Regions from separate parts of the Homo sapiens genome. Here region 1 is linked to region 2. The links come from fine-mapping of genetic effects on gene expression. A gene starts in region 2. The other region holds a variant in brackets. All regions are shown on one strand. Distances are from middle to middle.

Region 1 (5,486 bases), 64 kb after region 2:
GCATGGCGGCGGCGTAGTCGAAGCCAAAGGGGTCGTCCAGGCGCATCAGCAGCTGGTGCAGGAAGCGCCTGGTTGTGAAGTAGCGCAGGGTCGGCTTCGGGGCGCGCATAGCGGTGAGGAAGACCTGCGGCGGCGGGAGAGGAGCTCTGGCCCGGGCTGCGCGCAGGACGACGCACCGCCCCCGCTCCCGGAGTCCCGCCCCCCGCTCACCTTCACCACCTCCTCAGGGTGCTGCGCCTCCTCGCGGTAGATCTCCTTGCTGTGGTGGAGGTATTAGTGCAAGAGGCGGAAGGTCCGGGTGTTCGTGCGGTCCATCACCTGGTCGGGACCGCCCAACACCTTCTGCATGAAGGCGGTGTCCACAGGGCCGCACTCGATCAGGCTCACGCTGCTGGCCCGAGAGCCGCAAGTGGGCAGGGACGGAGGCGACCCAGGCGCCAAGTCCCATCTCCTGCCCCAGCACCGGCCCCGACCCCGGCCCTGGCCACGACCCAGAACAGCACCGCTGCGTCCCGAAGGTGGAAAGAGCGCTGGGGATAACCAGAACATTTGAATAGCGGGTTATTGCTCGACAGCCCTCCCAAACCCATCTGAGGCTGCCAGGTAGCCCTGGTGTCAGAATTCGAACCTGGCGGGATCCCCGGCCGCTGCATGACCTTGGGCCAGTCACCTAACCTCTCTTGGCTGGAGCTTCCCCATAACAATACCAACACTTCAGCAGCCAGGTCAGCAAGTGGCACAATGCGTGCCAATGCTCCAGCCTAAGTGCCTGGCACGCAGCAAATGTAAGCCGGGCAGAGACCAGAGCGGCTTCCGCAGGACAGGGTGCTCGGCATCTCTAGGTCAGAGTTAAGAGGGTTGAGGAGACGGGGGTGTTGACTCACTGGACCCCAAAGGGCAGCAGCAGAACCGCCAGACTCTCGCATAAGCCTTCGAGCGCGAACTTGCTGGCGCAATAAACGTCATTGAAAGGCAGCCCTTGGGTGGGAAGATGAGGTTCCTGAGGCGCAGCGGCCAGGGGGTCATCCCCCGGCAGGCAGTGCCCCTCCAAGCTGATTGCACCCCACCCCCTAAGGAGCCTGCCTTCAAGGCTCAGCTCTGCACACAAAGAATCTGGAGCTCCGGGCCCGGTCCCTGCCACTCACCCATCAATCCTCCCATGCTCCCAGTCACCAACACGCGTCCCGAACCCGGCCGCTTCATGTCTGGCAGGAAGTCCTGCAGCACCCGCACAGTACCTACTACATTCACATCCAGTACAGAGGCCACAGCGTCCTCCCCCAGCGGCCCCAGCAGGCCCAGGCCTGTGTCACACACTGCGGGGACAGAGGCCCAACCAGCCCGCCTCAGCATCACCCTCAGCACGGCCTGTCCCCTCATGCTCCAGGGGCCTGGGGACATGTTGGTTTCAACGCAGGGCGGAGAAGGCTCCTAGGAGCCCATATGCTTCCAGGAGGCTCACCCAGCACATCCACACGGCCCTCGGTCACGCGTTCCCGGGCAGCGGCCAGGGAGCTTGAGTTCCTTACATCCAGCTGCAACCTCTCCAGGGATCCCTGAGGGCATGCCAGGGCCCGGGCCGCCTCCCACAGCCGGCCCTGTGTTTTCAGGTCCCTCAACGTGGCATACACTGGAGGTTTTGGGAGAGGAGGAAGATCTGACTTCTCTTCTGGCCTCCAAGGGCTTTTCCCTTCTCTCCCTCCCTGTCCCTACCTATCTATACCTTTGAAGCTCTGGGATGGGTCCAAAGCCAGATGTATTGCCAAGTGCAGGCCAATACCTGAGGAACAGCCGGTGATGAGCACCACGGTGCAGGCCATGGTGAGACTGTGGGGAGAGGCTGGGGCTCTGGGCTGGATATCACCTGCTTCGCCCCGCCCCGCCTGCGGGCCCCCACCCCTTGTTGTGTCTCCCACGCAATCTCAAGGATAAGCCCTCCTGCGGGTCCCTGGCCCGCTCTCCCCACCCTGTTCTGAGCCAAAACAGACATGAGCCCACTGCTTGGAACAACAAACTGTCCTCGTTTCTGGTCAGAGGGAGGGGAGGCTTTACAAGCAGATGTGGGTTCCCACGTGGGCACAGAGTGGCCCCCTGGGCAGATTCCCCTGGGTATGCCTCTGTGCCACAGGAGCGATTATAGTGACCGCAGTTTGCTGCAGAGGCTGTGAAAGTAAAGGTGTTGGGAGGTGGGAGATGATTGTATATGTGTTGGTTTCGTCCAGGGTTCCTAGCTCATAACTCACATGACCATGGTTACAGTCTTTCGTTGTCATGTTGGGGCGCCTCAGGCCTCAAAAAACAGCCTTTCCTCTCTTTGACCTTCTCCTGTCCTCTTTTCAGCTGCCCAAGGCAGGATTCTAATCTGATTGTGGGTTGTAGGATCCTCATTCCAGAGTGGGTCCTTGCCCCATACCCTGGAGAAAGGAATGCTGCACAAAGGCCCAAAGAATCTGGACTGGCCTTGCTGGGCTTAGATCAGACCCTTTTTGCCCAATCACATTATCACAGTTGTCCATGCTTCAGTCATGGACAGCCAATGGAGTTCTCCATAAAAGGCCCAAAGGACAGGGTTCGGGAAGCTTCTGAGAGCTGAACGTGTGGAGGCTGACAGAAGGTGAAGAACTCATCCATGTGCCTGGAGGGTGATGTAACCCCAACTCTATGGAGATAGAAGCTCCTGCTCTGGGCCCTTCCAGACCGCCCTGTCTGTATCTCTTCATATGGCTGTTTATTTCTATCCTTTAAAATATCCTTTGAGGTTGGGCACGGTGGCTGATGCCTGTAATCCCAGCACTTTGGGAGGCCAAG[G/A]CAAGGGGATTGCTGGAGCTCAGGAGTTCAAGACCAGCCAGGGCAACAGAATGAGACCCCGTCTTTGCAAAAACTACAAAAAAATTAGCTGGGTGTGGTGGTGTATGCTTAGAGTCCCAGCCACTTGCGGGGTGGGGCGCTGAGGCGTGGGGTTTGGGGGGATGGAGGCTGTAGTGAGCCGAGATCATGCCACTGCACTCCAGCCTGGGTGACGGAGCCAGATCCTGCCACTGCAGTCATTCTGGATGACAGAGTGAGACCCTGTCTCAAAAAAGAAAGAAAAAAATTTTTTTCCTCTGTAATAAAGCAATAAACATAATAAGGGTTTCCCTGTGTTTCGTGGGTCACTGTCGCAAATGAGTTGACTCCAAAGAGGGGAAGGGGGTCATGGGAACTCCAACTTGAAGCCAGTTAGTCAGAAGTTCCAGGGATCAGGACTTGTAACCGTTGGGAAGGAGGGGGTGGTCTCATGGATCTGCACCCTAACCCTGTGGGATCTGATGCTGTCTCTGGTTGATTACATTGGAACTGAATTGGAGGACACCCAGCTGATGTCTGCTGCTTGGTGTGTGTGGGGAAAATCCTCCAAATATTTGGTCACAGAAGTCTTCTGTGTTGGTGACTGTTGCTGTGGCATGCCAGCAAAGGACAAACATGGTTTGAAAAGAGGTTTTCCTGCAACAGAAGGGCATTCTACGTTCAAAGGTCAGGGTAACATTAGTGTTAAAAAGAGAGACGTGGCCGGGCACGGTGGCTCACTCCTGTAATCCCAGCACTTTGGAAGGCCGAGGCAGGTGGATCACTTGAGTTCAGGAGTTAAAGACCAGCCTGGCCAACATGGTGAAACCTTATCTCTATGAAAAATACAAAAATTAGCCGGGCGTGATGGCACAGGCCCGTAGTCCTAACTCCCTGGTAGACTGAGGCAGGAGAATTGCTTGAACCCGGGAGGCAGAGGTTGCAGTAAACCAATATGGTGCCACTAAACTCCAACCTGGGCGACAGAGCAAGACTCCATCTTGGAAAAAAAAAAATTAGCCTGGCGTGGTGGTGCATGCCTATAGTCCCAGCTACCGGGGAGGCTGAGGCACAAGAATTGCTTGAACCCAGGAGGCGGAGGTTGCAGTGAGCCGAGACTGTGCCATTGTACTCAAGCCTGGGCAACAGACCAAGGCTCCGTCACAAACAAACAAACAAACAAAAACAGGGACGTGAGGCAAGGGATGGGAGAACAGGTCCCACCCCAGGGCCATGCTATAGCCCTGAGTCCTCCCAAGCGTGGCAGCAGTGACCTTCTCATTTTGACAGACCCAGGGGACTCATCAGTTTAAGTGGAAAGAAAACAGTACTTTAATCCCACACTTTGGGTGGTGGTGGAGGGCAGGTCATTTCCCTCCAATCCCCCCAGGTCAGACCCCACCAGCAGGCCGTGGGGCCTCCTCCCAGGCCTGGGTTATCCTGTGATGTCTGTCCAGCTCTGGGCCCTGGAATCTGCCCTGGAATTAGCGGAAAACAAGGCCCAGTGGTGGCGAATCTATCACCAAGAGCCGGCCACCCAGCGGGGGTAATATTTGAGGAAGATCTTCTTGGCCAGGTCCACAGTGTCTCCTCGCGGCTGGCTGGGGTACCTCTGCTTGCTGAGAACGAAGGCCTGCTCCAGTTGGAAGACATTTTTGTCAAACTGGTGCTGTTGGAAAGGGATGCCCTGGGCCACACTGTCAACCAGCGCCTCCAGGAAAAGCCGCCAGCGAGGGGTGTAGTAGTTGGCCACCAACCCCGCCAGCTGCTTGTTGGCATAGTCCAGGATGTTGCCTTCTGGCCCCCACAAGGTCAGCTGGTAGCGGCTGTTCTGCTCGTAGAAATCGGCCTCGGCCTCACTGACTGCCGCTGCTCGGGCCTGCTCTAGCCAGCTGCCCAGCAAGAAGCGGCTGTCACTAGCCAGCACCTCGTCCAGTGCCGGCAGCAGCTCATAGGCCAGGACGCCTCCAGCCCTCAACAGGGAGGCCAGCTCCTTGCTCAGGTAGGCGCTTCTTGCCTCCTCATAGTACAAGCTGACCAGCTCCTGCACTGCCTGCCGAGTGAGGTCCAGCAGGTCGTAGCGGAAGGCGGGGCTGGTGGCCAGGGAGGGAGCAGATGTGAGCAGCAGCCGCCAGGCCTCAAACACATCAGATCGGTTGTACCAGATGCTGGTATTCATCTGTAGGGACGGCCGCCTGACCAGCGGGCTACGATTGTGGCCCCTGCAGGCCTCCCCGGAGCAGTTGTACACACTCCGGAGCAGTAGCCTCCACGCTGCCCCTGCGTCCGGGTGGGAGACCCCATACCGCCGGGCGGCAAAGCTGGTCACCCAGGCTGCCAAATCTGGCACTGGGTCCTTTCGCCAGCCCAGCTCAGCCATGAGGGAATAGACCACTTCGTTCTGGCTGATGCCCTCGGGGGCCATGCCCGTGCCTACCATGGTGGAGTTGGGGAAGAGGCGGGCAGCTTCTGGGCCTCCGTTCACAGCCTCTAGGGCTCCAAAAAGACCATGGTTTCCCCCAAAGTTGTGCAGCATGCACCAGATGAAGGGCTGGCCCTGGAAGGAGGCAGTGCGGGTATACACAGGCTGGCTCTCAGCAAACAGGTCCAGAACCAGGAGGCGGCCACGGGGCACAGCTCCCAGCACAGCCCTGATCTGG
Region 2 (5,000 bases):
CTTACCTCTAGACTGTCACTACCATCTGCCTCCCGGTCTATGATGTCAAAAATGTCCTCATGGATCTTTTCTCCCTGTACAGACATAGGGGAGGGTCAGAGTGGGACAGAACCATGGGAGGTCTCTGACCTCAGAAAAGCCACCCTCAATTCTCCTTATAACACCCAGAAGTCCTTTTATGGAGCATAGCTACCTGCTTTTATCTACATTGAGAGGCAGTACGGTGCAGTGGTTACAAGAAAGCACTCTACACCCAGACTACCTGGGTTCATACATTAGCTCTATTTTTTTTTGCGATGGAGTCTCTCTCTTTCTCCCAGGCTGGAGTGCAGTGGCGCGATCTTGGCTCATGGCAACCTCCGTCTCCTGGGTTCAAGCGATTCTCCTGCCTCAGCCTCCCCAGTAGCTGGGATTATAGGCGCATGCCACCATGCCCAGCTATTTTTTGTATTTTTAGTAGAATCAGAGTTTCACCATGTTGGCTAGGCTGGTCTTGAACTCCTGACCTCAGGTGATCTGCCTGCCTTGGCCTCCCAAAGTGCTAGGATTACAGGCGTGAGCCACCACGCCTGGCCCATTAACTCTACTTCTATGTAGCTCTGGGCAGCTTATTTAATTGCTCTATGCCTCAGTTTCCTCATCTGTACAATGAAGGTAATAATACAGGTCCATATACCCTTATCTAACAGTGTTGGGGCCAGTTATGTTTTGGAATTCAAAATATTTCAGATTTTAGAAAGGTATTATGGTATATATACTATATATTAAATAAAATTCCAGTGGGAATTTTTATTTAATCAGAAGCACGTTAATCAAATATATTAGTATTTCTGTAATAAAAGGCATCACTAATGACAGTAAGTTGGATAGAAACTATAGGGCCGGGCATGGCGGTTCACGCCTGCAATCCCAGCACTTTGGGAGGCCGAGGCAGGTGGATCACGAGGTCAGGAGATCAAGACCACCCTGGCTAACACAGTAAAACCCCGTCTCTACTAAAAATACAAAAATTAGCCAGGCGTGATGGCAAGCACCTGTAATCCCAGCTACTCGGGAGGCTGAGGCAGGAGAATCGCTTGAACCCGGGCAGCAGAGGTTGCAGTGAGCTGAGAGCGTGCCACTGCACTCCAGCCTGGGCGACAGAGTGAGACTCCGTCTCAAAAAAAATAAATAAATAAAAATTAAAAAAAAGAAACTATAAAACAGCCTGTCTTCATTGAAATTTGTTTTTGCTGATAAACTAGTTATGAAATGTCCTTTGGTTTCATGGCTTTCTGGATCCTGGAAAGGCAGATAAGGGACTGTGGACCTGTAGTACTTACTTCTAGGGTTGTTGGGAGATTTAGAAAAATTAATATATGTAAAGCACTTAGAATGACCTGGCACACTGCATTAGCTAGTGTAGGCGCTTGACAATATTACATAGTCCACTCCCTGCAGCCAGGTCTCTCCCTCCAGCATTCATACATCCCTGATCCGGTTTTCCCTCTCTTCGGGACGTCATAGAGCCTGTCCCTACCCAGCGAGTTGTGGGCCCTGCCAGGGAATAGGAAACGACCTGGGAGAATCCGCTGGCCCAGTTGTTGCCAGCTCCTCCTCCATGTTCCGACAGGTAGATGTTCTCTGGGTTGTAGAGCTTGGCATAGGGGGAGTTGAGGATGGAGTGGATCACCCGGGGTTCCAAGTCCAGCAGCACGGCCCGGGGGATGTAGTGCTCATCGTCTGCCTGTCAAGGGGAGTCCAGGAGGGGGCCCAATCAGCTAGGGCGGCCCAAGTCCGAAGTCCTCCCAACTCTGGCTCCCTCCGGCCCTCCCTCCTCAAGCCAGCCGCCTGGCCCTACTGCCCAGCGGGGTTCCCAGTACCAGGCCACTCCCTTCCCTTCCGCCCCCTTGGGCAACTGCCGCCCCCGGCCAAGTCGCTGGGGGCACCTGGTAGAAAAAGACGTCCTTGCGGTCAGTGCCCTCGGTGGCGAACTCCTCCACGATGCCCTCGGGGCTGATACCATGCTCGGCGCACAGCTGTTTCCAGAACTCGAACCCAACTGGGGGGAAGGGGCGGGCAGGGGAGAAAGAAGATATCTAGGTCCGGGCAGGTTCCAATCAGGAGCCGGGGGACTGGGCGCCTGCGTCCAGGGATAAGAAGTCAAGCCGCAGGACTCTCCCGTGTCTGAGGAAAGGACTGTACGCCAGGGACTGGGCAGGGGAGGGCCCCTCGGGGTTGGGCAAGTGGACACTGGGTCAGGGATGTCTCGCCTTTCAGAGAACTACGATTCTGGCAAGGACAGATGGAGTCCAGGATCCCACAGCGAGATCCCATTGACCCTAAGGAACCTGGCTAGCTGAGGGGCCGGAGTTTCGCTCACTCTGATTGCCGCACTGGCCCAACTGTAGGGTGATGATTTCCCTCGGCATCGCTCCTCAGGCACCGGCGTTGCAGCCGCTCCCGCCCGCAACGGCGCCGCACGCCAGCCCGCTCGCCGCAAGACGCAGGCGCCAAACAACCAGCTCCACCCACGAACTTCCTCCGCTCCAATGAGAATCGAGTTCTGGCAATGAATGGCACGTCTTTAAGCACTGGCCTTCGTTCATGCAGATTGCGCGTGCGCGGCTCCGGATGCGGCTCGGCGCCTCCGGATCCGGCTCCGCGCCTCAGTGAGGGCGGGGTACGGCGTCCTCCCTCCCCTCTGGGTGGGCGCCTGCTTGGGCCTGCGCGCAAGCGCGCTGTGGTGCGAAGCCACCTCCCCCGCCGAATCGCGCATCTGCGCAGTTGCTGTTATTGTGACTTGTCGGGCCACGGCCCCGGATGTTGTGGCTGCCGCGGGGAGATGGCTGAGGCCGAAGGGGTTCCCACGACCCCAGGCCCGGCTTCGGGGTCGACTTTCAGGGGCCGCCGAGATGTGTCAGGCTCCTGGGAGCGGGACCAGCAGGTTGAGGCGGCGCAGCGGGCCCTGGTGGAGGTGCTGGGGCCTTACGAGCCTCTGCTGAGTCGGGTGCAGGCAGCCCTGGTGTGGGAGCGGCCAGCTAGGAGCGCTCTGTGGTGCCTGGGGCTGAACGCGGCTTTCTGGTGAGAGAACTGGACCCTCGGAAACCCTCCGAGTCCCGAATTCGTTGGTTCCTCTAGGGCTCTACTTCTCGCCTGCCCTGTTTTCTTCGCTGCACTGGCTCCTTCCTGTACTTGCCTAATTTTGCCTCACCTCCTTCCACTCCATCCCGCCTGCAGGCTTCGGCACCCTAGTTCTTCCCAGGGCCGTCCACCCATCTTCTCTGCCTTACCTGTGCCCGCACCCCCGCCCCGCACATCTGGCGGGAGCTTCTGGTAACATCTTGAGCCGCTCAAGAGTGAGCGAGGGCTCCTCTTTTGAGCCCGACAAAGCTGCGTCCCTTTAAAGCCATCACTTCCTTTCTCTTGTCTGCTCAAGTGCAAGTTCTAGATTGTTTCCAGAGGTTTTAGTAGTTTATTGTTGGAGTAGAGGCGTGAAGTCTTGCAAAGGTATCCATAGGTGTGATTATAAAACAAGCTTGAGCGATTCGCATGAATTAGCATGTTATATATCTAGGAAGGAAGTTTATGAAGTCTAAGCGTCAGTGTGAGCCCCCAAAGCTGAAAATTGAAAGAAAATTACAAGCTTTTAAAGAACAGTTAGGAAATGATGACGGAGATTACACGCGTGTCAAAGCCACCTGTGATTGTAACTCCTCCCTGTTCCAAGGAATTAGAGAGGCATCCTTAGCCATGGTTTATAGGCAAGGAAATTGATGTCTAATACTGTGTGTGAGTTTTCCTGAGCTGGAAAAGTAGCACTGTAAATATGCTTTATTTGTGTGTGTCATGCTCTGTGAAAATGGAACTGCTGCTTCTCTCAGTTGTCATCACCTGAAGTGGACCTAGGACTTCATAGGATCTACCAACCATAATTTTGGATTTATTTGTAATGGAGGAGGTTCCAAGGGAACTGACTTATAGGGGGCTTTCTGCTGCTGAATGGATTAAGACTATTCTGGATAAGCCTGAAACAACAAAATATGTGTGTTTTTTAATTGTGTTTTTGCTAAAAATAGCTTTCCCCTTAAAATTTGTTTTAAAATCAAAACATTTATTATCCTTTATCTGAAAGATTTTCAGTGAGCTGAAGCAGAACAAATAATTCCAAGTTCATTGACCCGAAAACAGTGTTCAGCTATTAAGCTAATCCTCTCCCAGTTTGAAAGAGACCCAGTTAAAGGTGTCACAGTAGTCTCTGGCATTTGTGGCTTCCAGAGCCTTTAGCAAACTCGATGGTAAACTTTTCCTACCACGTTCTTCATTTATTTTTGGTAGTGCTTTTTCCCTTTTTTTTTTTTTTAAGACAGAGTTTCACTCTTATTGCCCAGGCTGGAGTGCAATGGCGTGATCTCGGCTCACTGCAACCTCCGCCTCCCAGATTCAAGCATTTCTCCTGCCTCAGCCCCCCAAGTAGCTGGGATTACAGGCATGAACCACCACAACCGGCTAATTTTGTATTTTTTTAGTAGAGATGGGGTTTCTCCATGTTGGTCAGGCTGGTCTCGAACTCCCGAGGTCAGGTGATCTGCCTGCCTCGGCCTCCCAAAGTGCTGGGATTACAGGCGTGAGCCACTGCGCCTGGCCTTTTTTTTTTTTTTTTTTTTTTTGAGACAAGGTCTTGCTCTATCACCCAGGCTGGAGTGCAGTGGTATGATCTCGGCTCATTGCAACTTCCACTTCCTGGGCTCAAGCAATCTTCCCACCTCAGCCTCCACAATAGCTGGGACCAGAGGTGCACATCATCATGCTTGGCTAATTTTTTAAATTTTTTGTGGAGACAGGGTCTCACTATATTGCCCAGGCTGGTCTCGAACTCCTAGGCTCTGGTGATCCTCCTGCCTTGGGCTCCCAGAGTGCTGGGATTATAGGCATGAGCCACCGTGCCCAGCCAAGTGCTTCTTCCTTGACCCCTAGGTACTGATTCCCATTGCTCTCTGTAGAAATCTTCACTATAGCAC

What was found. PIP is the estimated chance that this variant, and not a neighbour inherited with it, causes the effect.
Region 1: its variant is the best candidate, but not a certain one, in a credible set for the expression of RETREG3 in whole blood (INTERVAL, PIP 0.85).

The regions. Positions count from the first base shown.
Region 1 is chr17:42,543,098-42,548,583 of GRCh38, reverse strand. NAGLU (N-acetyl-alpha-glucosaminidase) reads right to left here. Exons shown (of 6, transcript NM_000263.4): 6 at 4,135-5,486. The coding sequence ends at 4,346. It also overlaps the pseudogene HSD17B1P1. Among named protein-coding and RNA genes, the nearest start is that of HSD17B1, 7.1 kb to the left of the region's middle. RefSeq lists a silencer at 69-318. The variant G/A (reference allele first, on the strand shown) is at 2,809.
Region 2 is chr17:42,607,149-42,612,148 of GRCh38, reverse strand. RETREG3 (reticulophagy regulator family member 3) reads left to right here and starts at 2,775. Exons shown (of 9, transcript NM_178126.4): 1 at 2,775-3,063. The coding sequence starts at 2,825. It overlaps TUBG1 (tubulin gamma 1), which reads right to left and starts at 2,466. Exons shown (of 11, transcript NM_001070.5): 1 at 2,363-2,466; 2 at 1,929-2,041; 3 at 1,559-1,726; 4 at 6-74. The coding sequence starts at 2,411. RefSeq lists an enhancer at 2,784-2,893.